7 linked regions of the Homo sapiens genome follow. The protein of the gene in region 2 interacts with the protein of the main gene of each other region in a pairwise test. Each region holds a gene or a part of one and is shown on either strand. Other genes may lie near its edges.

Region 1 (4,444 bases), on a different chromosome or scaffold from region 2:
CTGCACTCCAGCCTGGGCAACAGAGCGAGACTCTGTCTCAAAAAAAAAAAAAAAAAAAAAAAGAAACGTACCAAAATGTTCATAACGTTTGTCTTTGCGTGATAGAAATAGGAAATTTTGATTTCTATTTTTAATATTTTCTAATATTCTACAATGATCATGGATTATTTTTTATAATTGAGGCAAAACAATTTCAGAAGGCAAAAGAGAAATAATAAAGAAAACCTTTTCTATCTGTAAATTTAACCATGAAATTGAACAAACCTAAAGAGAAATGTTCTTACCGTTCCACAGGAACCAGCTTCTTCCACTGGGCCACTAGGTCCCTGGCAAAGCTTCCAACATGCTCGTGTTTTCGCAAGCTATTTACTGTTTTCCCAACCCCAGTCTCCTAAAATTTGACAAAGTAATTGTTAGAGGGGTCTGGAACTAGGCTAACGTTTTTCTAAAGAAATAAGGCTTTCTACTTTGAGAAACTCAACAAGCAATACTTCCTTCCTACAACATACCCTGCAAATCTTAACACTAAATTACTTTGTGTCTATGCCCCAAATCTCTAATGACACACAGTAGCAAAGCGTACCAAGTTCAGAACTTTAATAACAAGAGTGATTAGGGCAGGTGTTAGGCACTAAGATAAGAGCTTTGCATACAGTTCTGAATCAGTCTTTACAATAACCCTGTGAAGCAGGAATCAGACCCATTTTACATAGGAACAGCCTAAAGTCATAGAACTCAGATTTGAATCTGGGACTAATTGATGCCAAAGTCAATGTTCTTTTAATTCTAATTTTGAAATAAAGTCATTTAACAATATTCACCACTTTAACTAAAGTACATAATTCAGTGGTTTCCAGAACATTCACAATATTATATAACCATTATAACCATCTAATTCCAGAACATTTACATTACCCTAAAAAGAAATCCTGTTCCTCCCAATTCTCCTAGCCCCTGGCAACCACTAATCTACTTTCTGTCTATGGATTTGCCTATTCTGGACATTTCATATAAATGGAATCAGACAATATATGGCCTTTTGTGTCTGGTTTCTTTCACTTCCAAAGCCCATACTTGTAACCTTATTCTACACACTCTCCAGTGAGAAGGGAATGGGATATCATTATATAATATTTAAAGTCACACAGTTCTTACCGCAAGAATGTCTACTGTAATAGGCAGGGTGGAGAGTTTCTTCAAATATTTCAATAGCTGCAGAGAAGAAAACATTAATTTCAATAGTCAAATTCACTTTAACAAGAATATCTGATTATTAAGTGCTTAGTGCTAACCATTTACAGTAATGAGTATAAGTATTATGCCTATTTACAGTAGTAAGTAATATCCCTATTTTACAAGTATGAAAATAGGCTCATAAAAGTTATGTTTCTTGTCCCAAGATGCAAGTGGGGCAAGATTCACTCAGGTCTGTGGCTTTAGATTCCCTGCTTTCAACCACTGTGCTACACCAAGGGGAAATAAGATGTAGAGAAGAGAATCAAAACTTACCAACTCTGATAAAAGCCATCAACAACTATCATTTTTGCCCTAGTTTTGATAGAATTTATGAGAAAGGTACCAATTTTAGGGGAATTACCCATGGACCTGGCACAGAGGAAGTAAAAGGAAGAAAAGGCCTCTACAGGAAAAGACCATCATGTTTCCAGAAGGGCCACAGTGTTTAACAGAATTGTTTTCTTCTACATAAGTGTAAAGCCAAGAGTAATTTCAAGTTGCCAGAATCAGAGCTTGGATGTTAACGGTGGACACAAAATGCCTGGGTAGATTAGAAAAGTGATCTGGGTTTGATCACATTTCCTTCCTATAGTTCCTAAAACTAGGTCAAAATCAGTACAGCAGAGCTGTTAAGATGGAGTTCTGGAGTCAGAGACAGGCTTGACAATCTGGCTTTGTCACTCGATGAGTGATCTTGAATAAGTCAAAAACCTCCCCAAACTTCAGTTACTTCATCTGCAAAATAGGAACTTGGTCCTGTCTCTACTTCACAAACTATGAGGATTCAGAGACAAACCATGTGCAGTCCTTAGTCATAGTGTCTAGAACACTATGAAAGCTCACTAAATACTTATCATTTCATTCATCGACTGACAGCTTTCAGCGTTCTGCCCTTGATCTTCAACCAGATATTCCTCAGCCAATTCCTACTTGCTCTAACAAAAGTTATGACTGGCCAAACCTTTCTCTAGGAAATGTCTACGTGTATCTAAACATACTTACCATACAAGGAGTGCTTCAAAATACAAGTAGTTTAAAATAGATAACTGTGGTTACCTTTGCATTTAAATATTATATAACAAGATCTGCTTTTACCATGTGTGGCCCAGACTATAATTGGTATGCCATATTGCTATTAGGTGGAGTAACAAGTCTGTTTTTCTGGTCATTCTACTTCAATCATTACTTAACATGGTCACCAGACAGAGCAATTGGATCACAAGTGATAATCTTGAGATCAAGTAAGAGGCCAAGTGGCATATCTAGGGAGTCTCACCTTCATAGATGAGTGAAAATTATCCCCCACTTCAAATCCTATCACCACCATCATCCAACTCAGGAAAAATTTTGTGTTTCTTGCCACCCAAGCTATGGGTGCAAAGACTAATGCCAATTCCTTCACTTAAAGGAAAATTTTAAATCACTGAAAAGGTCAAAAACAAGTGGTTCTCTCATAATGCCATTCCTTGGAAGGGGTAGGTTGGGAATATTCACATACCATCTATTGTGTGTCAGCTACTACACTAAGCTCTTACACGTTACCTCATTTCATTCCCACTAACCAACTCTATAAAGTGGATGTTATTCTCCCCATTTGACAGATATTGCAACTGAACCCAATCAGGTTAGGTAACTTGCTTAACAAGCTGGAAAGTCAAATGTGTCTACTACAGTTAAGTAAAGCCAGGAGAAGCATCCAACATCAGAACACTGTCCTTAGGAAATGAAAATAGAGCGGCAGCACATATACTTCTTAGCATACTTGCAAGAAAGCAGAAAAACTCCTCCTGTGATGTCATTAGACAGTTCAGAACCCACATAGTAAAGGAGGTCACCAAGGGAACAAAGGTGTCCCAGGACCTCTACAAAGCCAACATATAAGGATGAGGCTGGAAGTCACTGTGGGTGTGTTTATCTCAAAGCCTAGCACTAACTGGAAGAACAAATCCTGTCTTTCTGCTTTACTTTGGGTTATTAGGGGTGATTTAAAAGCAGACAAAACTAAAACCCTCAAGATTTTCAGACTCATTTAGTCTAACACAAGAGAAAAAAGGACTTCACAACCCCTCTATTTTCAGTAAATTTCAAGAAAGAACAAAGCAATAACAAGGCAAAGGCACATTGGGCATCCTCAGGTGGATCGAAACTTGCTGTTATCAAACAAGATACCAACTATAGAGCTTGTAAGAACTGGTAACAGGCAACTGAGAAATATCAAACATTTGCAAGGTACATGTTGAGGCATCTCAGTTGTCCCCTGTACAATCCTTCAACCCAAAAAAGCAAAAAATATTTTTAATGTCACCTGCCATCAAAATGTTCTTGGTAGCTTTCACAGTGAAAATGTAACACAGGACGAGGATCCTTTTTTTTTTTTTTTTTTTTTTTGGAGATGGAGTTTTGCTCTTGTTGTCCAGGCTGGAGTGCAATGGTGCCATCTCGGCTCACTGCAACCTCCGCCTCCTGGGTTCAAGAGATTCTCCTGTCTCAGCCTCCCGAGTAGCTGGGATTACAGGCACCACCACCATGACCAACTAATTTTTTTATTTTTAGTAGAGATGGGGTTTCATCATGTTGGCCAGGCTGGTCTCGAACTCTTGACCTCAGATGATCCGCCCCTCTTGGCCTCCCAAAGTGCTGTGATTACAAGCGTGAGCCACTGCGCCCGGCCAACTGTGTGTGTGTGTTTTTTTTGTTTTTTTTTTTTTGAGACGGAGTTTCGCTCTTGTTGCCCAGGCTGGAGTGCAATGGCGCGATCTCAGCTCGCTGCAACCTCTGCCTCCCGGGTTCGAGTGTTCTCCTGCCTCAGCCTCCCGAGCAGCTGGGATTACAGGCGCCTGCCACCACACCTGGCTAATTTTCGTACTTTTAGTAGAGAAGGGGTTTCACCATGTTGGCCAGGCTGGTCTCGAACTCCTGATCTCAGGTGATCTACTCACCTCGGCCTCCCAAAGTGCTGGGATTACAGGTGTGAGGCACTGCACTCGGCCTAAGGACAGGTAATTTTTATCAGCCATGAACTATGAAACATAAAAACAGAAACCAAGTGGTCCTAGGCTGCTGATACCTTCTCCCTTAAGTGAGCCAAGATAACAGATGAAAAAGTGAAAACAGAGTTACAGCAATGTCTAGTACCAAAAAATCCATGAACACAGGTGTGGAATCAAACCCTTGGCTAATAATGGTTTGAAAGCAAGATCTGGTTGTA
Region 2 (4,444 bases):
TACCTGGAACAAAAGGTAGGCCTAGATACAGAATTCCTAGAAATACAATTCCTGGGACAAAAGGTAGGCCTTCTTGAGGCATTCTGTCAAAAGACTGTCCAGGAAAGCACTGGTCTGTTTCATTTTATGAGGCTGCTTCTTAAAACAGCTCTCAATCTAGGCTGACGATGTAAATCAGATCAAGATGCATAAAGGCAACTCTACTGGGGCCAATATGATGTGGTTCAGGGATCCAGTTCTCTACTGCTTTCCCTTTTTAGACATAGTGATAGTTCTAGGGTCTCTGGAGGACGGATAGGCTCTATACTCCCGGACAGAAAGTTTCCTAGATACGGTTGTTTCGGCTGAGCCCTTGCTATGCATTGGACAGAGGCCTGAGAAATAATAGCTGGGGAGCCCAAGGGATGTCTTTGAAAAGAAACCTAGACCTGGGGTGGAAGTTTTCCTTTGGGATGAGCCCAGGCAAGCAGTGACTCTTGGTGGGCAGCTGAGGGCAGAGCCTTGGGCCTTCAGCCAAGCTGGGGGCAGAACTGACATTGCCTTGTGAGAGGCAGAGGGGCCAGACCAGCCACTGGGCCTGGACATAAAGGCTGAACTGCCCCACAGGAACAAATCCGGAGTCTGATCCTGTGCACAGAGGTGAGGTTTTGAAACAGCCAAAGTGGAGCCTCCAGGGCTGGGTTTTAGCCAAAGGAGGGCCCTGTGTCATCTGGAGAAGGAGTGCAAAGCTGCTATCCTAGAGCAAGGCTGCAGTAACTTAGCCTGAAAAAACAAAGGCAGCTTTCCCAAACATCTTCCTCAGCCATTGAAAACAACAACAACAACAAAGAAACCAAATCATGTAAATCATAGGTAAGAACTTTTAGCCTTGAGCAATTAACCTTCTGATGAGGATGCCAAGAAAAAACTAGTTACATAACATAAACCTAGTAAGGGAATGCGGATATATGCTGTATGAATTTATGACCTGTCAGTTGGGCAAAAGTCTGGAGGTATCTACAAATTGTAAAGTTTGATGTAAAGATCATTGCACTGGGCAACATAGTGAGACCCCTGTCTCTACAAAAAAATTAATTAGCTGGGCGTGCTGGTGCTTACCTGTAATCTCAGCTACTCAGAAGGCTGAGGCAGGAGAATTGCCTGAACCTGGGAGGCGGAGGTTGCAGTGAGCCAAGATTGTGCCACTGAACTCCAGCCTGGGCGATGGACCAAGACTCTGTCTTGAAAAAAAAAAAAGATTGAACTACAGCCCTGTACTATATTGTGCGCATGGCAGTAACTCAGGACTCAGGAGCCGGGCAAGATCACCTTCAGTTTGTGATGAGACAGCCATGCTATCTTCCTGTTTTCCATAGTGGGACTCAAATTTAGCTCATCCTGAACAGTATCCAGCAGTTCAGATATACATGAAAGAGATCAGAGGGCTACTCTCCTAAATGTTTTCCCCCTTGGAAACTGTTACATGGTCTGCAAAGAGGCCATTGCTACTGATTCTACCTCCTGCCGTGGGTGTCGGAGGACATGCTCCAAGTAAGTGGCCTTCATGGAGCCCCTGCAGCTTAACTAGAGTGCAAAGCCACTGCATCAGAGGTGAGTGAAGAAAGGCCAAGTGCAGTGCAACATCATACCCCCCACTTCCAGGTTAGTGTCTGGGCTGTGTGTAGATTTCTAATGCTGGCAGGCCAGGGTGGTATACCACCCTATAAACCAGAGACATCAAAGGTTGCCCTTTGAAGGCAGTGAATCGACTTGGGCCACCTAGTGATTCAGGGACAGGTAGAAAGAGAAACACAATAGAAGCTGTTTGGGGGCAGAGAGGCAGGTCTCAGATCATTTTAGGGAAACTGGATCACAGCGCAAGCTAAGCTGGTCAAAGCTGCCAGGAGGGATCAGGGAATAGTCTAGAAGTTGCAGAGCAGGGAACTGAGTGGAGCCAAGTACTAGGGAGAAGACACCAGCTACCAGAGGGTGGGTGATGGCTCCAGGCTCAGAGGAGAGAGGCCTGGGAACGGGAGAATGGGGGAGCTGGCTAGACAGGAAGTGAAAGTGGAGTAACAACCTGTCACAGCTGGATGAATGGGACACACCGGACCAAGCTGAGGGAAGGTACTAAGTCTGGGCTATGGGTTTGAACTGTGCAGGTCAAAAGAAAAAAAAAAAACAACATTAAGTCTGGGTTGGCACCTCCCCTGCCTGGACCCCAGGGTTTTCTGGGGTCTCCTTCAGGAGGTTTTAGTGGTTTTACATGAAGCAATGCCCCAGAGGCCTGAGGAGGAATGTCTGGGGAACCCAGGGCCTGTCTTTGAAAAGAAACTTAGAAATCCCACTGTCCCTCACTGGCTCGGGCACCACAGATTCCAGAGCAGAGACTCAGCAAAGGGAGAGGGGACATTTTCAGGGAGGACAAAGGTAGGGGTGTGGGCTCCAGGCTGTGGACACAAGTACCACCTGGCAGGGCTGTGAGGTCCTGTTCTCAGCTCCAGGGCACGACTGTCAGCCACTCTGGGTCCACAGAATCAGGGTCAGGTCACCTTTGGGGTAACCAGGGTGGAGGCAGGACCTCCCTCCCGTTGCCAGGTCAGAGCTCTCCTGAGGCTGAGGACTCAAGGTCAGCTAGGCAGGCGGGGACAGCACGGGTACCAAGGACTTCAAATCTGTGACTCAGCAGCTGCCTCTCAGCCTGGAAAGAGGAACGCACAGGGCCTGCCACGCCTGGTCCAAGGTAGGGGAGGAATGTGGGCCGAAAGAGGGAGTGCCAGTGCTTAATAATTAATGGCTTTTTCTTTCTTTTTTTCTTTTTTTGAGACAGAGTCTCACTCTGTCGCCCAGGCTGGAGTGCAGTGGCGCGATCTTGGCTCACTGCAAGCTCTGCCTCCCGGGTTCACACCATTCTCCTGCATCAGCCTCCCGAGTAGCTGGGACTACAGGCGCCCGCCACCGCGCCCGGCTAATTTTTTGTATTTTTAGTAGAGACGGGGTTTCACTGTGTTAGCCAGGATGGTTTCGATCTCCTGATGTTGTGATCCATCCGCCTCGGCCTCCCAAAGTGCTGGGATTACAGGCGTGAGCCACCGTGCCCGGCTCTTTCTAGGCTTTTTTTTTTTTTTTTTTTAAAGACAGAGTTTGCTCTTGTTGCCCAGGCTGGAGTGCAATGGCGCTAGCTATCTCAGCTCACTGCAACCTCTGCCTCCTGGGTTCAAGAGATTCTCCTGGCTCAGCCTCCTGAGTAGCTGGGATTACAGGCATGTGCCACCACGCCTGGCTAATTTTGTATTTTTAGTAGAGACGGGGTTTCTCCATGTTGGTCAGGCTAGTCTCGAACTCCCGACCTCAGGTGATCCGCCCGCCTTGGCCTCCCAAAGTGCTGGGATTACAGGTGTGAGCTGCTGTGCCCAGCTGGCTTTTTCTATTTTTATAAATGCTCGTGGCAGTGGGCAGAGGGAACACAGCGAGAATCTAGGACCTCACTTGTCCCACGGCTGCTTTCCACCAGGACAGAGCATCAAAGCCAAACAGGATCTCTACAGTCAAGCTTCTGGAAAGTGGAATCAGGGCCTGCCCTTTGGGCAGGAGGAAACAGACAGGAGGGAAGACCAGGTGGCTGGCTGAGAAAACCATTTCTGGGCCACTCACAGGCAACCAGGGAGCAGCTGGGTGGAAGAGAATTTGTGGGTTGGGAGATGCAACAGGCCTTTGACACCCAATATGGCTGGCCTTTGGCCCGTGCTCCGTCCCACCATCCAGCTCTCCATGCCTGGCCCCTGGGGCACAGGGCGGGCAGGGCCCACGGGAATGCCCCACAGAACCCGTGTCTGATGCTTCCTTCAGCCCCTCCCTCCCTATTTTCCAGCCTTCTCATGTCGCTCCATGACTTGGTACAAGCATCGCTTCCCCCTGGAATGCCTTCTTCCCTCCCTCTCCTGGGGAGCCTCCAGCTCAAAAGGGCCTTGGCATAAACCTTTCTAAGTCTCTGCTGTCCCCGTTGCTGGGCCTACAGCTGCAGAACCCCTCACTCTGACGCCATTGTGAGTTTGGTCCTATTTCTGTCTTCTCTAATGTAACGTGGAGTCCTCTGAGGGCAGAGATTATGTCCTCAGGCTCAGCACAGTACCTGGCCCACAGTAAGCAGACATCCAGCTTTTGGCAGGAAGCTCCAGTTTATTCTGTCTCATTTCTGCTTTCCCTCCTGGTTCCTGGCCTTTGGCTACCATTGGAGCTGCCAGGCCAGGCCAACAGCTGCAGACCAGCAGGGCCAGAGAAGCAGAGGCCTGCCGGGCCCATCCCTCCCGGCAGCCCAGAGCACGGCCACCCAGCGCAGCTGGAGTCTCAGATCCTTCTCTCTCTCAAGAAGCTGCACATCTCTGCGCATCTCCCACCTCTATGCCCTGGCTCCTTTCCCATTTCTGGGCCAGGAACAGTGCCAAAGCCTTCATTAGGGGTGCAG
Region 3 (4,444 bases), on a different chromosome or scaffold from region 2:
TCATGAGATTACTATACACATGTCAGGTCAGTTCAACAACAAATGATCCTGTAAGGAACATTAATTCTTTAATGAATACACTCAGTCGGTATTTCTCTTTCGAGTATTCTGATGGATCAGGAGATTCACGGATGGAAAGGCACTGTCTTGGCCCTGAAGCTGCTCACAGTCCCGCAGCAGGCAAACACAGAAGAGAAAAGCCGAATCCCTGTGACACTGGCTTACGGGACCTATGAAGGGCCACGGGCCATTGTGAAGGAGCACCACAGGCTTCCAGGAGAGCCAGGAGTCAGGGGAGCTTCCCCAGGATGGCGTCACTGTCAGCTGAGATGATGCCTGGAGGTTGCGGAGATACTAGCAGGTGTGTGTGAGAGGCAAGGTCCCCCATTCTGCCCGGCACCAGCAAGTACACTGAAGTCTTGTCCGGGGGCCTGAAGGGGAGGGGACAGCAGGAACAAGGTAGCCAGGCTGGAGCAGACCTGATGGGAAGGGCTTCCCTGCCCCACAGAGAAGTGCAGAGGGGACTGTGAGGGCACGCAGAGCCTGAGGTGGTCTGAAGCAGACAGATGGCACCAGCCTCACCTCTACGAAGCTCCCTGCAGAGGCCATGAAACAGCCTGGGGGTGGGCAGGAAGCCCGGGGGGCAGACTCAGGAGGAAGACAGTGTCAGATTCGGCCCTGAAGGGCCACGCAGACCTCGGCCAAGGATGGGAAGGAGTCCAGGTGCCAGGCAGCCCAGGGCGAGTGGTGCCCACAGGCTTGGGCTGTGCTGTGCATAAGGGCCACACCTGAAGCTCGGCCACACCTGAGGCTCGGCCACCACATAGGCCCCGTTTCTTTACCAAGATAGGTTCCTGCAGAGGTCGTGAAGCTGCTGTGGTCATTTGCTGGCAGCGACGTGAAGATAGAATTCTTTCCTGACTCAACCAGGGGCACTCTCGTCTCCTCCCCGTGAGACCCGCAATGCAGGAAGCACCCACAGCTGCATGGACAGAACTGGGGCCTGGGAAAGAGGCCAGGAAGGTGCCAGATGAGAGGGCGCTCCATCAGGGTGGCAGCAATGCCATGGGCTGGCAAATGGAGAAAGGGGAACAAAGCACCCAAGTGCATCTAGCCCCAGCCACACGCCTTCTGCTGGGAGTGTGCTCAGAGGGAAGTGACCGCTAGGATTCGGAATCTCCAGTCACGGCCCCTGGAGACCGGCATGTGGGCTGTGTGTGGGGTGGAGGGCTGGGGGTGTTGGCAAGTCTCACAGGTGAGGACCCAACGAGGGAATCAGACAAAAAGTGGCCACAAATTAGGCAGCTCCAGGAAGGACATGTCCTTGCCATAGTAAGATGTTCTGCTCACGCGTATCCACGAGAAAGCCCCGCATTTCACGGGGAGCATAGAAACAGGAGTCCCCAACTCTGCTCACCAGCTCCTCCGGCTGCTGCCATCTGCTCCTGCAGCATGGCGGCCTGGGAAGCCTGCACTGGTGATTTTCTGCCACTCAAGTTTTGCAGACTTCGGGAAGATGGATGCATAGCCTGGGGCAATGACAGTCACAGGCCCGCCTTGTCACAAGGTCCCTGGAGCGGGCAATGCCTTGAGCCCAAAGGCTGGGAGCACAAAGCCATCTTCAGCCATCCTCGATTTCCAGCAAGACCCCAGGGCTCACCCAACAGCCCGACACTCCATACTACAAGGTGGGTTAATTTTTTTAAAGACTCTGCAGAAATATACCAACTACAGAGCTCAGGAAAGCAACTGATTTATAAAACCCAATCCAAGTTGTTTGCTTTTATAGCATTAGAGACATGTCTGAAGAACTTCAAGTTTTTATCTATAGAAACATAATTAGTTTAATAAATTACTAGGTCTATTTTGAATAACAAATTGAGTACTTTTATTAGACCTAAGTGGAACTTTATCTGAATCTGAATTTTCCAAGGGGCCAGTGTAGAGTGACACAGGTGTCCGAGGCCACCTTTCCATCTTCAGACACCCCCCCGTCTCTCTGCACAGGGAGTTGGCCTTCCAGTAGGTGTTGCTCTTCTGTCTTGACGTCTCCTGGAAAGATTTTTATCTCTATTTTCCTGTGGTGGTGTTTTCCACGAGCTAATTCTTTCTATCTTTAAACTCATTGGCTGAAAACAAATGTGGGAATATTTTTGCATTAGTAACAATTATATTATTTTTAAATGTTAAGCAACACATCATACCAGCTATCACAGAATGTAGATGATTCTACTCCCCCTTCCTACAGAAGGACACATGAGGTATCCACACTTAGTGTCTCTCATTCCCCATTTTACAGCCCACGCTCTTGTGAAATTTGGGATTCCAATACATGGCTGATATTGTAAAGTCAACAGTGAAATAAAGTGCTTGAAACTCAATTCAAAAATGCATAATAAAAATAATTTTCTACATTTTGCACTATTTAACAATTGATGGTTTCAAGGCGTGGATAAGCCACCCATTCAGTTATCTATTTACTCGTACATTGCCCCGCATGCCTGTGATTAACTCAGGTCAATGATGGAGCATGAGAGAAGTCCGCGTCTCACAGGAGGCTGGGCCTGTGCAGTCCACCCTGGGACTTACGATGTTTTGTACTCATAGGATCTGAAAAGGCTCTTTTCCTACTTGTGACAAATGCTTGGAGTAGATTTCTGATCTTCCTTCAGGGAATAAAGTGTTATCTGCTCAGCAGTTGCTTTGGGAAAGAATGCGAGGGGATAAATCATCTTCAGGAGTTGGGGGCGCCTTCTCCATCCACATCAACCCAGTATCAGTTGCTGGCTGTGGACTCACGAGATTTGCTTCCTGAGTATGAGGGTGACACAAAGCTGGGACAGGAAGAGACACACTGGCTGGGAGAATGTTCTAAAGAGGAGCTAATTTTAACAAAGAAAAATGTGATAGAGACTGCCGAGACCAGCTCGGTCAGGAAGACCCTAACCCAGCAGTGCTAGAGGAATTAAAGACATACGCACGGAAGTATAGCATGTGGAGTGGGAAATCAGGGCACTCACAGCCTTCAGAGCTGAGAGCCGTGAACAGAGATTTACCCACATATTTATTGACAGCAAGCCAGTGATAAATTGTTTCTATAGATTATAGATTAACTAAAAGTATTCCTTATGGGAAACAAAGGGATGGGCCAAAACAAAGGGATGGGCTCTGGCTAGATATCCACAGCAGAAACATGTCCTTAAGGCACAGATCGCTCATGCTACTGTTTGTGGTTTAAGAACGCCTTTAAGCGGTTTTCCACCCTGGGTGGGCCAGGTGTTCCTTGCCATCATTCTGGTAAACCCACAACCTTCAGCGTGGGCATCATGGCCATCACGAACATGTCACAGTGCTGCAGAGATTTTGTTTGTGGCCAGTTTTGGGGCCAGTTTATGGCCAGATCTGGGGGCCTATTCCCAACAAGAGACAAAATAGCATCCTGTACTGTGGCTCCCAAGCTAACAGCGCCACCCCTGTTCAGAGGAGTCCACGCCGACAAGCAGCAGGTGCAAGACCGCAGTGCAGAAGCAGGGAGCACGGGAGGCTGCGAGCCCTCAGACTCACGGGTGGAGACAGTGCCACACACATCACCTCCGCAGCCTGCACCCACGGAAACAAAGCCCCCAAGTCCCCTCGGCCCCAGCCAGACGCTTGCTGCTGTGAGTGTACTCAGAGGGAAGCAGCCGGGAGGACTTGGAATCTGCTCCACAGCAAGAAGTGCTAAGGGTTAGGATCTTGTTTGAAAGGCATGTACCCGTGTCCTTGGAAGAACACAGGACTCCAGGGAGCACCATGCTCACCCAGGGAGGTGAAATTGTGTGGTGAGGAGCTGATGGGATGTGTGTGTTTGGGTACAGAACCTCTGCTTCTCTTTACAGATGATAAGCACAAAGGGTCACCTTTGGAGGAGCTGAATTGTTAGATGACGATCTTTGTCCCAGGAGAGTGGCACTCTGATTCTTGTGGCCAGCGTATTTGGGTATTGTCTCTTCATCAGCTGACAGAGGTGAAATTTTTCCAAAAGCAGGTTCCAATGCCTAAAAGACAAAATGCAGGGAAATTCTTCACATTTTCGAAGGTAAAATAAATTCAAATTTTAATACAATGAAGAATAATTGGAATGTCCTAGAAAAAAATAGGGTACAAGGTAGGGGGACTTGGACTGGGTTTTCCCCCTAATATGTTGATAAGAACAGAAACCCTCACCAAGCGTTTGTGAAGGAACCTTTGTGGAGCCGATGTTTGCTTTGTGTTTCTTATTGTGGTTCCTTGTTTCAAAATGATCACAGGATCCCAAAGGCTACAGAACAAACAATCCCCAACATATCTTCCTTTAGGCTCCTGTGTCTTCAACCGGGAGTGTGTTAACGGAGGAAGAAAATGTGATACTACTTCTAGTGTTGTCTCTACAACTTGTCTAAGATCCAAAATGCAAATTCCCAAC
Region 4 (3,174 bases), on a different chromosome or scaffold from region 2:
TGCTCTCAGCAGAGCAAAGGCACTGCCGGTTACAGGCCAAACAGGATGGTAGGGTCCTGGGAGCAGTGCATTCTCCACACTTGCACTTCCCACACTGTTCACAAATGAACTTGTGCTGTGTCAGGTCCTCTTTCAAGGAACCCTTCAAGTCATCCACAATCAGTTGCTTGGGCTGGGTCCGGATTGCCCTTTCAGACCTATGACCAGGGACTGGTCTGGTTGGTGGTGACCTTCCTAACAGTCCCTGTTCAGAAGAGGCACTGCTGTTGCTCCCAGAGCTGGCTGCACTTCCAGTGCTGGTTGATCTGCTCAAAATGGGGCCCCTGGCATTACTTGGGAGTACTGCATGTCCCAGGTGGCTTGTGTGTCTGTGCTCGTAGTTATTATTCACATTAATTGGTATGATTTCATGAGTCCTTTCATGCTTTTCTTGTCTTGGTGCTGTCCGAGGAGCAGGTCTTTTCACCACCGAAGGCCCTTCTGTGTATTCATTGCTGCCTCTTATGGCCTTGATCTGGTCTAAGGACAAAATAGCAGTAGGCTGAATCTCTCTCTCATAGTCTAATCTCTGACGGCTATCCAAAGAAGGCTGCTGGATCACAACTAACGAACTGCCACTGCCATGTTGATTTTGGGGATCCATGTGTAGTGATCTCGAGTTCTGGCAATCAGTGGAAACCTGGCATGCATCTGAAATCCTAAAACGAAATCAAAGATGAAAAAAACAGAAAATAAATGACAGGAAGCATTTTTTTTGGGGGGGGGGAATCCTGTCAAATCACAAATTGCCTAAACCGCCTAGTAATGACCTCCTTCATCAGTGGATTACAATGATGCTGGGGTCCTGGCCAGAGTCCAATTCTAGGAGAGGCTGGGGACCACATCATAGAGGAAGACTATAAACAAGAGACCCCATGCCATGAACATTATAAGTTTTTCCAACTTTTAAGAAGCAGAATCAGGAGAAAGTAATGCCTTCCTGTTTGTGAATCTAATAATTAAAATGGAGCATGCCTTCGCAGGGAATACTGAGTATAAGCAGGAGAATAACTCTCATCTAAAGAAAGCTCAGTTATCAGTTCATAGGTGGCTTCCATAAAGGAAAATGTCTACCTTTTAAGAAATTGAGAATGGCTTTGGTGCTACAGCCTTTTTGTTGTGTGCTGTTATATGCATTAGATTAATGATGAAAAAAATTAAGGCATTAAAAAATTGAGACTCTTAAAATGAAATCGCAAAATAATAGGTAATTTTCTATATAAATCAGAATTTTAAAACTACCTTATTATTCATCTATGAGATGCAAAAATAAATGTATCAGGTACACAACGATTCTTGGTGTTTTGGAGCTACAAACACACACACACACAAGACTCAATGTATAGTCCAGTGAATGATATATAACAGTACTCATATTTGAAATCCTGAGAGGATTTTTTTTAAGCTGAAGGGCTCACTCACAAAACAAAGTAAGTTTTATGCACAAATAAGTGTGAGGCCTTTAACGCAGTGTAGGGAAATCCTGGCAGTTTTAATTATCTGTATTTCCTCTGATTTAAAAATCTGTATTTACATGACAGACCTTGATTTTCAAACGCACTGCCAATTCTGATTCAACGTTCTTCTTGTAACAAAATCAGCACACTAATATCCAGATAAAAATAAGCAGTTGTGTTTCCATACTAATAGTAAGTTATTTCTAATTTATGTGTTCTTCACAAACTGCCAAAGATGAAAGTTTCTGCTTTCAGTGGTGAACTAGAGTATTTTTCACACAAATTCCTTCTAAAGTCTACAGAGTCGACCCAATTCAAGAATGAAAAGAAAAAGAAATGTCCATTCTCCACTACCAACCTGAGGCAAAAAACATGGTTTAAGGAACAACGCAGAAAGAAGTCCATTTCCTATATTTCCTAAACTAATGTCTCTAAACTATGTCTTACATGTTAACTTCTTGGAGCTCCCCCTCGTTTTCACAACTCAGCTCTCTCGAGTTTCTACTTTATTCTACCTTCTTTGCGCATGAGGAGTAACACATTCATAACCTGCGGGGATTTAGTCTCGGAGTCCTCAACATCTAATCCTGACTCCTGCACAATTATTCCTCTTCTTCAAGAACTTCTTAACTCAGTGCTTTCAAAGCAAAAGGTAGCTAAAAGTACTAAGCCAGATTCACAAAACCGCAGAGGATTTGAATAGTGTAACCCATAACACCAGGCACAACTTCAATTTGCATTTCCAATGATAGTTGTAACAAACTTCATACTGGCTGGGAAATAAAGTTGCCAGACAAAAAAATTAAAAGCAAAGAAAATTCGCCACCTCCGATCCGAAGAAAAGCCCATTTTCAAGCAGTGACAGTCTTGGACAAGCCCCAAACACGCTCACACGCGCTCGGCACACTGCCTTCCCCAAGAAAACGCGAATGGAAGTAGAATACCTTTTCGGACAATCCCATCACCATATTAAGGATCACCGTGGATTTCCAACACACTTTTTGGGTGGCCCACCAAGGTTTCTGAGAAATCATGAAGAGCCTTCAGCGTCCACGCGGGAGCCCAAAGCAAGCCCACGGTCTGGCTGACCCTAAGCAAGGATTTGTCTATGCTTTAAAGGAAAAGCTGGGTTCACCGAGGGCCGAGGAGAAAGAAGCCAGCGCAGGGGCGGCCACATTGCAAGTTACCACGGTGGAGCTGCGCCCTCTGCAATCCGCACTGAATAAATAGTTGACGGAAGAAGGAAAAGGAAAAAGTTATGAATGAAAACAAGTTCTTTCTCCCTCTCTCTGTGGTAGGAGGAGGGGAGGAGGCTGAGGTTACCATGAGCTCAGGAGGGCGGACTTCCCCACTTTTTTTTTTTGAGCCGGAGTCTCACTTTGTCTCCCAGGCTGGAGTGCAGTGGCGCGACCTTGGCTCACTGCAACCTCCGCCTCCCGGGTTCAAGCGGGTCTCCCGCCTCAGTCTCTCGAGTAGCTGTGACTACAGTCGCGCGTCACCACGGCCGGCTAATTTTTGCATTTTTAGTAAAGACGGGGTTTCATCAGTTGGTCGGGCTGGTCTCGAACTCCTGACCTCAGGTGATCAGCGCGCCTCGGCCCCCCCAAGTGCTGGGATTACAGGCGTGAGCCACCGCGCCCAGCCGACTTCCCCACTTTTAAAGTGGCAGTGCCCTCTC
Region 5 (4,032 bases), on a different chromosome or scaffold from region 2:
GCCTGAAGCTGGCAGCCAGGTCTCTGCGGGGCTTGGAAGCCTGGATTCCCCCTGGGGCTGCAGAGGTGAGGAAGAAGAAACAGATGGGACTGTGAGTAGCTACAGAGGGCAGGGAGGAGTGAGAAAGAAGGGCAGAGTGGGCGAGGTACAAGGTGAAGCCGTGTGGGGTATGCAGGTTGGGACTTCAGGTCGTGGTAGGTGGGGACAGAAGGACTCGTGAAATAAACCCCATTTCTGGGCATTCCAGTGCAGGGCGGGGCAAGAAAAAGGAACTCTTCTGGGTCCCACCTGGAATGACCTTCTACCTCCTCTCTCTGTATAGGACTGGGCTCTGGCCTCGGATCTACTGTAGAGCACCCCTGCTTGGTACAGACATACTCAGGGGCTACCGTGTCTTCACTCTCCAGCCTGAGGTGGTGAAGGCAGGATGCTCTCTCTAAGCCAGACCAGAGGGACTCAGACACCACCGATCACAGGCTGGCCCAGGTGCTCCCTCCCTTCCTGCAGGCCCACCTGCCAGCAGAGGGTGTGGTTGGAGGCCTCAGACAGGTCCCTGAAGGAGTCTGAGGCTCCAGAGGATGTCATATGGGAGTTTTAGAGAGCTGTGTCCCAAGGATGAAGGTGTGGCTGTGGGTCTGGCTAGGATTGAAGCCATCTGGACCTTTTCTAGATATGACTCCAGGACCCTTGAGTGTAATGCAAAAATTTGGAGACCAGCTATGCCTGCCCTCTGTGGGTGCCTTAGCATTGCGGGAGGGTGGTGCTTGGTCACCGTTGCATTTGTTATAGAAATGGCCATTCGCCATAAATCTGACTGCCTGTGTTTGTGTTGGTGGGGGTAAGGGGCAGTGGTGTGAAGGGACCAAAAGGGCCTCAGGCTCAAGGGGTGGGATGCGGCTCCTGCAGGAGAGAGGTTGAGACCTGGTCAAATTTATTTCCTATCAATCACTGAATCTCAGGGATAATGGGTCAACCCAGAACTGAGATGTCTGTATGACAGCCACTCCTAAAAATAAACAACAACAAAAACAAAAAAAGAAGAAAACTAAATAAAAATAAAAATAAAAATAAGATCCACTTCTCTCTGCCAAACGGCCAGAGCCCACAGCTCTATTGAGTTCTACATCAAGACACTTTATTGCTGGGGCCTCAGAGAACACTAGAGACTAGGGGCTGGTGGCCTCAAAGATCCAGGGGGGGTGAGTCCAAACTGGCGTTGCTGCTCCTTGTGCCTGGCGTGAAGTCTCAGTGCTGCCCCATCCCACTGCTGCTTGATGGCTCTCAGCTTGGCCAAGAGCCTGTCCAGACTGTCCTGCAGACATCAATATTTCAGACCCCAGAAAGAGAGAGAGGGAAGGAGTGAGTGCTGCCCCAGGTTGGTTCATAAGCTTTCCTTGCCCAGTAGACATGGTCGTATCCCCTCTGTCTGCCCTCAGGATAGAGCAGGGCTCCCTTGGAGACGCTCCTTCTCCTTAACCCTGGGTTGTCAGTCATCATACGAGCTGGGGTTTGTGGGCATGGGGGAGTCCTGGGTACTGGGATGGCTGGGATCCAGGGGGTGGTGCTTACGTGTAAGATTTCCTCATACTTCGCCTCCATGTCTGCCATGTGGGCCCGAAGCTGAGCCAGGGCCTGGTCCCGCTCTCCGAGAGCTTGTTCAGCCTCTTCCCGGGCAGCTGCAGCCTCCCTTTGGCATGCCTCTGGGGGCAGGCAGGATGAAAGAGAGCAGGATGGTGACACTCTATCCTTGACCAGTCTCTCCAAAGGTATCTGGAAAGGAGACCTCAAATGGGCTCGTTCCAGACTCCCCCAGCATCACCAAATTTCCCGCAGTCCCTGTAAAAGCTGAAGCTCCACTGAGGTATATAGCAGAGAGTGGCGGGCTTGAGATAGAAGGCTCCAAAGTCGGATTACTACCTAGGTGACCACATGCATGTCTCTTTCTGAGCCTTGGTGTCTTCATCTTTTTTTTTTTTTTTAGATGGAGTCTCACTCTGTCGCCAGGCTGGAGTGCAGTGGCGCGATCTCAGCTCACTGCAACTGCCACCTCCTGGGTTCAAGCAATTCTCCTGCCTCAGCCTCCCGAGTAGCTGGGATTACAGGCACATGCCACCATGCCCAGCTAATCTTCGAATTTTTAGTAGAGATGGGGTTTCACCATGTTGGCCAGGATGGTCCCTATCTCTTAACCTTGTGATCCGCCCGCCTCGGCCTCCCAAAGTGGTGGGATTACAAGTGTGAGCCACCGCGGCTGGCTGGTGTCTTCATCTGTAAAGAGAGAATGACACATCCCTCAGGGGCATGCTGTGACCTTTAAACATGATAAATGGATGACAAAGCACCTAGCTAGTATACAGGAGGTGCTCAGTAAACATTGATTCATTGGCCGGGTGCGGTGGCTCACGCCTGTAATCCTAGCACTTTGGGAGGCCGAGGAGGGCGGATTACCTGAGGTCAGGAGTCCGAAACGAGCCCGGCCAACATAGGTGAATCTCCATCTCTACTAAAAATACAAAAATTAGCCAGGCATGGTGGCGCACACCTGTAATCCCAGCTACTCGGGAGACTGAGGCAGGAGAATTGCTTGAACGTAGGAGGTGGAGGTTGCAGTGAGCCGAGATTTGCCATTGCACTCCAGAATGAGCGACCAGAGTGAAACTCCGTCTCAAAACAAAAAACAAAAAACAAAAAAATCCCCAAAACAACAACAGCAAAAACAAAAACAATTGAGTCATTGATTGACTTGGAATTTGAGGTAAAGCAAAGATTAGGAAAGGAACCCAGAGTCTGAATGGCAGATAAGCAGCTCCTGGCCATCTATAGCTAAACCGAAGGCCTTTTTTTTTTTTTTTTTAGTTGGAATCTTACTCTGTTGCCGAGGCTGGAGTGCAGTGGTGCGATCTCGGCTCACTGCAGCCTCCGCCTCCTGGGTTCAAGTGATTCTCCTGACTCAGCCTCCCAAGTAGCTGAGATTACAGGCACACGCCACCATGCTCAGCTAATTTTTGTAATTTTAGTAGAGATGGCATTTCACCATACTGGCCAGGCTGGTCTCAAACTCCTGGCCTCAAGCAATTCTCTTGCCTTGGCCTCCCAAAGTGCTGGGATTACAGGGGTGAGCCACCGCACCCGGTTGAAGGCATTTTTAAGGTATGAAAACTTTGAGACCAAAATTGTGAAAGAGCTCATGTGTCATGCTGAGATATTTCAACATTATTTTGTAAGCAAGAGACAAGAGAAGCAAAGGCTTCCTGGTTTTTAAAAATATTTTTGCTTATTAGGAGTGTTTATTCATTTATTTGGTGAACAGTTATTTAGGATCTACCAGATGCTAGGTCTTGAAGATACAGAAGTAAATAAGTCAAACATTTCCCCTTAGTTTCATTGTAGAAATCAGCTAAACTAAAAGGGAATATGTTTTGCTCACAAGAGACATGGCAGTGGTGGGGAGTTAGGGCTGGACTTGAGAGGAGGAAATGGGGTGTGAGGCCTACATCTTCTTTTTTATTTTTATTTATTTTTTTGAGACAGAGTCTTGCTCTGTTGCCCAGGCTGGAGTGCAATGGCGTGATCTCGGCTCACTGCAACCTCTGCCTCCTGGGTTCAAGCGATTCTCCTGCTTCAGCCTCCCGAGTAGCTGGGATTACAGGTGTGCGCCACCACATCCGGCTAATTTTTATATTTTTAGTAGAGACGGGGTTTTGCCATTTGGCCAGGCTGTTCCTGGACTCCTGACCTCAGGTGATCCGCCCGCCTTGGCCTCCCAAAGTGCTGGGATTACAGGCCTGAGCCACCGCGCCTGGAGCCTCTTCTTTACTTACAGCAGAGATTTTTGGTATCCCGAACCCTCTGCTGCAGTCCTCAGTGGTGGAGGGTCAGCGAAAGTGGGGAAAGTGATCCAAGAGCCCAGACGGCAGCTTTCTGGAGCAGAGACTTTGAAGTCTACCCCTTCATGCTGGCCCTTGCTGCAACTCTTGGAGAGAAGGGGCTTGGAGGGTGGGGAAACCTACCTAGCTGCCCCCGAAGGCCTTT
Region 6 (4,444 bases), on a different chromosome or scaffold from region 2:
ATTTTCTGAATGGTAAGATTTTAGGTAATTTTCATTTGTTATTTTCCTCTTCTGTATTTTCTGTGATGAGCATGTATTGCTTTCATAATCAGAAAAGTTATTGGTCTAACGCAATTTCATGATAAACTATATGCACTTAAGATATACCTACTGAAAAATGGTATGAGCAATGAATCAATCACCTTCTACCCACCTCCCCTCTGGAACGAGAATGTACATAACACTACTGAACTGTATACTTAAAAAGGCTTAAGACAGGCTGGGCGTGGTGGCTCACACCTGCAATCCCAGCACTTTGGGAGGCCAAGGTGGGTGGATCATGAGGTCAAGAGATCGAGTCTATCCTGGCCAACATGGTGAAACCTTGTCTCCACCAAAAATACAAAAAGTTAGCTGGATGTAGTGGCGCATACCTGTAGTCCCAGCTACTCGGAAGGCCGAGGCAGGAGAATTGCTTGAACCCGGGAGGCAGAGTTTGCGGTGAGCCGAGATCATGCCACTGCACTCCAACCTGGCGACAGAGCGAGACTCTGTCAAAAAAAAAAAAAAAAAAGGGCTTAACACAGTAAATTTTATGTTTTGTATATTTTATCACAATTAAAATTTTTTAAAGAAATATGAAGAAAAGGTCAATAAAAGAACATATAAAATGAAGAGCAAAGTGCTTTTTGGTTGTTTATACATAAATACATTAACTTCTATAGATTTACTCATTTTGCTGGTAAGACAAATTGCTGCTTTCACCCCACTGAAACCCCGAAGCTATAATTACAATTCCCTTTAAGAATTACCTTGAAACTCAGACCTTCAGTTGAGAAATTCTGACCTGAGTCAAATATTGCTTAACTTCCTTTTGGGCGCTGTAGGCCCATCTCTTATTCACCATCTTTCTCAATGCCTAGCAAACCTCCATCCTGATTTCAATAGTAATGCATATAGAATGCAGGCACATTGAATGTTTCTTCTTTGTTAGGAAACTTTTCAACGAGTCGGGGAGGGCTCAAGTATATTGAATAACTTGAAACTTTATCACTGTGACACAACTGCGTGACTTCAAGATCTGAAGCAGACAATTCTGAGAGAAATGTTCGCTAATAGAGGGTGTGAATATTTTTTATTTTTCTGTGCTGTCTTGCCTGTTGTTTATTAAGAGTTTGATTCTTAGGAAGACCTCTTTTACTGTATGCAGTCTTTAAAAGTGGAATTTTAAAAAGGCAAAAAAGAATTATCTTTTAAGTGCTGGTTCACAATAATTAGGAAAATTACATAAGATCCTGAATTGATGGCCCTTTGTGAAACTAACTTTAAAACAAAACAAAACTGACTGCCCCAGGTTTTCTACATTCCAGCTCCCTCTGGTGGTTAAAAATGTAGGACTCAGACTCTTGGTTATGTAAGGGTACTTAACTCTTCATATTTGGGGATAAAGTTTGAGGGGAGATGCACCTGTTTGAGATGCAGTAATCGATTTCTGAGGCAATTATGAATACTTATCTGAATGCAAAGCCACAGGTGATATAGCCACTCTTAAGAGACGATATTCACATTTCAGAGGGAAGGTGGGTAGAAGGTGATTGATTCATTTCTCACCATACCATTTTTCAGTATCTTAAATGTATACAGTTTATCATGAAATTATATTAGACCAATAACTTTTCTGATTATGAAAACAATGCATGCTCATCACAGAAAATACAGAAAAGAGTAAAAGAACAAATGAAAATTACCTAAAATCTCACCATTCAGAAAATGCCCCTCTTTAAAATTTTGCGTATCTCTTCAGTCTTTCCATATGTAATTCTTAAGTAAAATTTGGACCAGATTCTATTTTTAAATAACACCTTTATTCAGATGTAATTCACATACCATACAATTCCCCTAAAGTGTATAATTCAGTGGCTTTTAGTATATTCACAGTTGTGTAACCCATCACCACAAATAAATCAACTTTAGAAGATTTATCTGTGCCACCACCCCCCAAGAAAATCCCTGCACTTTAGCAGCCACTCCTCTTTCTTCACTCCACTGCCCTTCTGTCCCACCCCACCAAGTCAACAACTAATCTTTTTTCTGTCTGTATAGATTTGCTGTCTGGACATTTCATGTGAATAAAATCATACAGTATGTGGTCTTTTGTATCTGGCTTCTTCTATTCAGCATAACGTTTTCAAGGTTCATCCATGTTGTAGCATTTTCAGTACTTCATTCCTTTTCATGGCAGAATAATATTATGTTGTGTGGATAAACCACATTTTATTTATCCATTCATCAGTTGATGGACATTTTGATTATTTCCCATTTTTGGCTATTATGAATAATACTGCTATGAACATTTGTGTACAAGTGTGTGTGTGTTTTTTTTTTTTTTTTTTTTGAGATGGAGTCTCGCTCTGTCACCCATGCTGGAGTGCAGTGGTGCAATCTTGGCTCACTGCAATCTACACCTCCTGGGTTCAAGTGATTCTCGTGCCTCAGACTCCTGAGTAGCTAGGATTACAGGCATGTGCCACCACGCCCGGCTACTTTTTGTATTTTTAGTAGAGACAGGGTTTCATCATGTTGGCCAGCCTGGTCTCGAACTCCTGACCTCAGGTGATCCACCTGCCTTGGCCTCCCAAAGTGCTGGGATTACAGGCATGTGCCACCACACCCGGCCTGTGTACAAGTTTTTGCATGGACATATGTTTTCATTTATCTTGAATCTGCTGGATTATATAACTGTTTAATCTTTCATATAGTTTTGCATCTTGATTTTTTTTCACTTAGCTTTAGGACTATTTTTCCACATCATTAAATATTCTCTAAAAACACGATTTTTAAATGGTTATGTTATTGGATCATCCTAGGAGTTTGCGATAGTTTTTAATCATTCTCCTATTTGGGGCCTTCCAGTTTCTCCTAAGTTTGAAGAAAATGCGTACATATGCGGTCTCCACATCTCTCGTTTCCTTAAAGTGAATTCACAGAAGTAGAATTACTAAAAGGTAAATATGTTTTATGTCACTTGTCATATGGTGTCTGGGAAGATTGTGTGAATTCTCTCTCTAAACACTTCAGTGTTCTTAGCCTGTGTATGTTCGGTGGTGATTATTTAATATCAAGTGCTATAAAACAGAGCCCATGGATTTTTGAAAAGACACAGTCCCTGCCATCAAGATGCTTATGTCCAGCACTCTTTTCATCCTCCCAAACTGAAAACTCTGCACCCATTAAACAACTCCTCATTCTTCCCTCCCTCCAGCCCCTGGCAATCACCACTCGACTTTCTGTCTCTATGGATGAGACTACTCTAGGTACTTCATGTGAGTGGAATCATACAGTATTTCTCTTTTTGTGACTGGCTTATTTCACTTAGCATAATGTCCTCAAGGTTCATCCATGTTGTAGCATGTGTCAGAACTTTCTTCCTTTTTAAGAATGAATAATATTCCATTGTCTATACATAACACATTTTGTTTATCCATTCAAATGTCAACGGATACTTGAGTTGCTTCTGGCTTTTGGCCATTGTGAATAACACTGCTGTGAGCACTGGTATACCAATCTCTCTTTGAGACCCTGCTTTCAATTCTTCAGAGTATATACTCAAAAATGGAATTGCTGGATCATATGGTAATTCTATTTTTAATTTTTTGAGGACCCACTGTATTGTTTTCCATTCCCTTCCACATTTTTAACAGGATTTAAATCCAGTCAAACTTTCTAGTCCTCTGTGGGACCATCATGTGGATATAAAGGATTTATTGCCCTAGGAGGGTATAATGTGGAAGCCATTGAAATACAAAATTCTGACAATTGCCATAAAAAGACAAGGTAAGGCATATGTCCAGCTTAGTTCTACATAGTTCATTCAATAAATATATATTAGGGATTGAGTATGTGCTAGATGCTGAGCCTAAAGAGACAGTCTCTGCCTTGAAGGAGCTGATAGCCTAGTGGGAGTAATACTGACAAGAAACTGGCCAGTTACAACACATGTGGAATTTCAACATGGACAGACACTGGCTGCTAGGGGAAACACACGCAGGATGGCACCAAACCCTATCTGGGCTCGCCATCATCTGGACAGCTACAATTTGCTTCTTTACTGCCTTCACTGTACTTCTGGCACTCACAAGGCCCAACTGTGAGTCTGGCACTTTGTTAGAGGGATCATCCTCTAGTACAGATCTCAGAAAGATACTCCCTCATTTTCCTGCTGAAAGCCCTTGAGAGGTTTCCCCTTGCTTTCATGATGGAGCCAAAGCTCCTTGGCCAGTGGCAAAAAGAGCCCTAGCAGGCCTCCCTCTTGACTACTCGCAACCACTGATGGGCACGGCTCTGTGCCTTTGCTCAAGCAGCATCCCGAGCCTGGCTGATCTCTCACCATTAGTGGTTCTCAAGCCTGGCTGCACATTAGAATCCTCTGGGGAAATTAAACAACAAAAAACAAAAACAAACAATG
Region 7 (4,444 bases), on a different chromosome or scaffold from region 2:
CAGCTTCGATCTGATCTGTATCTGTTTTATATTCTAGAGTGTCCAGTTACACTTTTATGGGACAAAAGACTTCTGCTGATAAAGGTGGAAAACCAATGGCTTAGAGTGGGTCATGATAAGAGGCTATGAAGGACTCAAGAGGACACTTGGTTGTTGGACAAAAATCCTAGCCCTTGAGCTTAGCAGCAAGCTGCCCAGCTCGTCCACACTCGAAAGGTCCCAAGGAACAAAGCGGAAAGAATGAGGCCTGGGTGGAGCCCTAGTGTGGCCAGCGGGCAAGATTCTTCTGTTCCTTAGGGACTACACCACGCGTTCCCCCTTCAGTTTCTAATGCTCCCACCACTCCACAGAGACCAGTGGGCCTTCTGGAGCAGACATCACCAAGACATTTATTTGTTCTGTCTAGGTGTCTATTTAAGCTAATTGAAAATATTTTGCTGGCCGGACACTCTCTAAGTACTCCTCCCATTTCTTGTCATTGCTTTTATATTTCCTAAACCAGAATATTTGCAGACCCCAAATTTCAGAACTGTTTTTGAGGAAAAAGAAGCAGATTTCTTAAAATTGTACCTCAGGACCATACTCAAGTGTGAAAACTGAGCCTCTTCATACTAAATTAGTTATCGGTTAACAGCATGGTCCAAGCTCTATGTGTGAACATAGCTACACACAAAGCACTTTCCACTGAGCAGAAACTTCTAGCTGAAGCTGTCAAACTATTAACTTTGTCCCTCAAAGAGTCTAAACTAAGCTATACACCCTTCTGTTCAGATGAAATAAAAGCTAAAGATCCAAAGATAAATAAAACTTTAGGATCAACTGAGATATTAAAAAAAAACACACACTAGGCATGGTTGCCAGTGACAGTAATCCTAGCACTTTGGGAGGTTGAGGTGCAAGGATCACTTGAGGCCAGCAGTTCAAGATCAGCCTGGGCAACATAGTGAGACCTCGCCTCTTCAAAAAATAAAAACAAAAACTTAACTGCTTTTACCAACAATAAATGCCCTTTTTTTTTTTTTTTCTTCCCCGAGATGGAGTCTTGCTCTGCCGCCAGGCTGGAGTGCAGTGACGCAATCTCGGCTCACTGCAACCTCTGCCTCCCAGGTTCAAGCGATTCTCCTGCCTCAGCCTCTGGAGTAGCTGGGATTACAGGCGTGCATCACCATGCCCCGCTAATTTTTCTGTATTTTTAGTAGAGACAGGGTTTCCCCACGTTGGCCAGGATGATCTTGATCTCCTGACTTCGTGATCCGCCCACCTCAGCCTCCCAAAGTGCTGGGATTACAGAAGTGAGTCACTGCACCCGGCAACGCTCTTCTTTACATTAAAAAAATCTAGATAGGCTGAGTGCAGTGGCTCACACCTGTAATCCTAGCACTTTGGGAGGCTGAGGCAGGCAGATCACGAGGTCAGGAGATTGAGACCATCCTGGCTAACACGGTGAAACCCCGTCTCTATTAAAAATACAAAAAATTAGCTGGGCGTGGTGGCAGGTGCCTGTAGTCCCAGCTACTCGGGAGGCTGAGGCAGGAGAATGGCGTGAACCGGGAAGGCGGAGCTTGCAGTGAGCTGAGACTGCGCCACTGCACTCCAGCCTGGGCAACACAGTGAGACTCCGTCTCAAAAAAAAAAAAAAAAAAAACAAACTAGATAGATAAATAATTTTAAAAGAAAACCTAGAAAGGAAAGGCAGAGGCCCTTGGGAAATACGGCCAGAAAGGACACCCTGTTAAGAGCCTCAGGAAAAGCCCCAGCACAGGGCCAGGTGTGGTGGCTCACGCCTGTAATCCCAGCACTTAGGGAGGCTGAGGCGGGTGCATCACCTGAAGTCAGAAATTCAAGACCAGCCTGGCCAACATGGTGAAACCCTGTCTCTACTAAAAATACAAAATTAGCCAGGCATGGTGGCGGGCGCCTGTAGTTCCAGCTACTCGGGAGGCTGAGGCAGGAGAATCGCTTGAACCAGGGAGGCGGAGGTTGCAGTGAGCCGAGATCACGCCGCTGCACTCCAGCCTAGGCAACAAGAGCAAAACTCTGTCTCAAAAAAATCATCATCATCATCATAATTAATAATAATAATAAAGAAAAGACCGAGCACAGCCTATGAGTCTCTCAGCTGGTTGTTGCTGCTTTACCTCTGGACGTCATAGTTGGCATTGAAAAGGCTGCCCTGCCAGAGGCTCGTAATTTCCTCTGTCTCCTTCTCAGTAGGGCTTCCTGATACAGTGACAAACATCATGAGAGTCTTCCCTTTTTTCGTCATTTTCAATATGCTTTCAGGCTTGCTTGGGTCTATCTTTGAGAAGTCGACAGGTGCTGAAGGTCTCTTGTGCTCTGGAAGATCTCCTTCTTCAATGTCATCATCTTTCTATCAGATTAGGGGAAAAGCATCAAACCTATCATCAGAATCTTGCTTTTCAACTGGCACAGGCAAAAACTTCTGCATGATGTCAGGTGCATGTATATGACTTAAATTACAACATAAAAAGGAAAACCAGGGGTTTTCTTCCTCTTCTTAACTTTCAAGATAGTCTAAGTTTCAGGCAGCACATACTACCCACACCCAGGTTACCAATCACAGAGCGCCCCCATGTGATGGGTTTCTAGAGCTTTTAAACTCTCATACAATCTACCCAACATGGTAGGCTGTAAAAATGGCCACATTCTGGTATGGTCACACAATGAAATACTTCACAGCAACAGAGAACAAATACTGATACATCTAACAAATCCCAAAAATGTTAAGTGACAGAAGCCAGATACAAAATAAGATTTACTATGCAATTCCGTTTATTTAAAATTCAAGAATGAGCAAAACTAATCTAGGGTAACAGAAATTAGAACAGTGTTGCCTGTAGAAGGGGGGACAAGGGAGGATTAACTGAGAATGGACACAAGAGAACTTTTCTGGGGTGATGAAAATGTTCTACATTTTGACAGGGGTGTAGATTACACAGATATATCCATTTATCAAAATTTATTGCAGGCCAGGCACTGTGGCTTACCTTGTAATCCCAGCACTTTGGGAGGCTGAGGTAAAACGATCACTTGAGGCCAGGAGTTCGACATCAGCCTAGGCAACACAGTAAGACTGTCTCTAAAAAAAAATTTAAAAGTAGCCAGGTATGGCAATGCACACCTGTAGTCCCAGCTACAGTGAGGCACACCTGTAGTCCCAGCTACTCAGTAGGCTGAGGTGGGAGAATTGCTTGAGCCCAGGAATTTGAGATCAGCCTGGGCAACATAGTGAGATCCCATCTCTTAAAAAAAATTTAAAAATTAGTCAGGTGTGGCGGCAGGTGCCTGTAGTCCTAGCTACTCAGGAGGCTGAGACACGAGGATCACTTGAGCCCAGGAGATCAGGGCTGCAGTAAGCTATAATTATGCCACTGCATTCCAGCCTGGGAGACAGAACGAGACCCTGTCTTAAAAGAAAAAAAAAAAAAGAAAAGAAATACTCCCTCTTTGCACTGTATACTTAAAATCTGCACTCCATGTATACCCATTTCACTTAATAGGCATTGTACAAAAATATTCAATTCCAGTTAGCAGGTTTGTTTTCTGTAGTGGTATGGGCTAGCAATTCTGAGACTATCTTATGTGACCTCTAGGATTGAGAAAAGGAGTAAACATATTGAGGGTAATGAGAGCCAGGTTCTTAACTTCTGGGAAGTAAGTTACAAACATGAAAGGGGGAAGAATGAGCCCTGTGGTATTAGGCTGGAATTGAAGGTATCAGGAGAAACTCATGGTTTTTCATAGATTAACAGATGAGTAAACAGATTAATGGATAAAAATATTTAAAAGAGCGTGGGTTCCTTGGAGAACAGGCTTATAGCAAGAGAGACAGAAGATGAGCCTAGAATAATCCCGCATCACAAAGTAGTAAAGTGCTCAAAGAATCGTGAACATGTCAAAATGCCATGGAAGCCAACTTGAAGCAGCTCTCATGGGCCAAAGTTGAAATAATCTCAACATCAAAATAAATAATAGTATGACTTACAACCCCTCAAACAAAATGAGATGTTGAACCCATAATGATCAAAACAAATGAATAAATTACTAATAGAAAACAGTAACTTTTTTTTTTTTTTTTTTTTTTTTTGAGATGGAGTCTCACTCTGTCACCAGGCTGGAGTGCAGTGGCACGATCTCGGCTCACTGCAACCTCTGCCTCCTGGGTTCAGGCGATTCTCCTGCCTCAGCCTCCCGAGTAGCTGGGATTATAGGCACGCACCACCACATCCAGCTAATTTTTGTATTTTTAGTAGAGACGGGGTTTTGCCATGTTGCCCAGGATGGTCTCGATCTCCTGACCTCGTGATCTGCCCACCTCGGCCTCCCAAAGTGCTGGGATTACAGGCATTAGCCACCATGCCTAATAAATAGCATATAGACTGACAAATAAAAAATCTTTAATAGAACCAGGTTCCTTGGAGAA

The links.
Region 1: the proteins of CDR2L (region 2) and ELOA interact in binary tests that used the Homo sapiens proteins (3 or more experiments, as listed by UniProt).
Region 3: the proteins of CDR2L (region 2) and TCP10L interact in binary tests that used the Homo sapiens proteins (3 or more experiments, as listed by UniProt).
Region 4: the proteins of CDR2L (region 2) and SPRY1 interact in binary tests that used the Homo sapiens proteins (3 or more experiments, as listed by UniProt).
Region 5: the proteins of CDR2L (region 2) and DRC12 interact in binary tests that used the Homo sapiens proteins (3 or more experiments, as listed by UniProt).
Region 6: the proteins of CDR2L (region 2) and TCEANC interact in binary tests that used the Homo sapiens proteins (3 or more experiments, as listed by UniProt).
Region 7: the proteins of CDR2L (region 2) and MESD interact in binary tests that used the Homo sapiens proteins (3 or more experiments, as listed by UniProt).

The regions. Positions count from the first base shown.
Region 1 is NC_000001.11:23,745,789-23,750,232, reverse strand, and holds part of ELOA (elongin-A), read right to left. Parts: intron 1,213-4,444; coding exon 1,156-1,212; intron 392-1,155; coding exon 285-391; intron 1-284. UniProt on the Homo sapiens protein: SIII, also known as elongin, is a general transcription elongation factor that increases the RNA polymerase II transcription elongation past template-encoded arresting sites.
Region 2 is NC_000017.11:74,990,075-74,994,518, reverse strand, and holds part of CDR2L (cerebellar degeneration-related protein 2-like), read right to left. Parts: intron 1-4,444.
Region 3 is NC_000021.9:32,574,795-32,579,238, forward strand, and holds part of TCP10L (T-complex protein 10A homolog 1), read right to left. Parts: intron 4,038-4,444; coding exon 3,900-4,037; intron 2,130-3,899; coding exon 1,980-2,129; 3' UTR 1-1,979. Other genes in the region: CFAP298-TCP10L (uncharacterized protein LOC110091775), read right to left, coding at 1,980-2,129, 3,900-4,037. UniProt on the Homo sapiens protein: May be involved in transcriptional regulation. Has in vitro transcription inhibition activity. Acts as a tumor suppressor in hepatocellular carcinoma (HCC) cells.
Region 4 is NC_000004.12:123,399,061-123,402,234, reverse strand, and holds part of SPRY1 (protein sprouty homolog 1), read right to left. Parts: intron 2,696-3,174; exon of another isoform or gene 2,441-2,695; intron 699-2,440; 5' UTR 644-698; coding exon 1-643. UniProt on the Homo sapiens protein: Inhibits fibroblast growth factor (FGF)-induced retinal lens fiber differentiation, probably by inhibiting FGF-mediated phosphorylation of ERK1/2. Inhibits TGFB-induced epithelial-to-mesenchymal transition in lens epithelial cells.
Region 5 is NC_000011.10:119,189,141-119,193,172, forward strand, and holds the end of DRC12 (dynein regulatory complex protein 12), read right to left. Parts: coding exon 4,011-4,032; intron 1,701-4,010; coding exon 1,570-1,700; intron 1,502-1,569; exon of another isoform or gene 1,427-1,501; intron 1,313-1,426; coding exon 1,160-1,312; 3' UTR 1,114-1,159; downstream 1-1,113. Other genes in the region: NHERF4 (Na(+)/H(+) exchange regulatory cofactor NHE-RF4), read left to right, coding at 1-65, 323-352. UniProt on the Homo sapiens protein: Component of the nexin-dynein regulatory complex (N-DRC), a key regulator of ciliary/flagellar motility which maintains the alignment and integrity of the distal axoneme and regulates microtubule sliding in motile axonemes.
Region 6 is NC_000023.11:13,655,738-13,660,181, reverse strand, and holds part of TCEANC (transcription elongation factor A N-terminal and central domain-containing protein), read right to left. Parts: intron 531-4,444; 5' UTR 496-530; coding exon of another isoform or gene 414-495; intron 1-413.
Region 7 is NC_000015.10:80,979,812-80,984,255, forward strand, and holds part of MESD (LRP chaperone MESD precursor), read right to left. Parts: intron 2,372-4,444; coding exon 2,139-2,371; intron 1-2,138. UniProt on the Homo sapiens protein: Chaperone specifically assisting the folding of beta-propeller/EGF modules within the family of low-density lipoprotein receptors (LDLRs).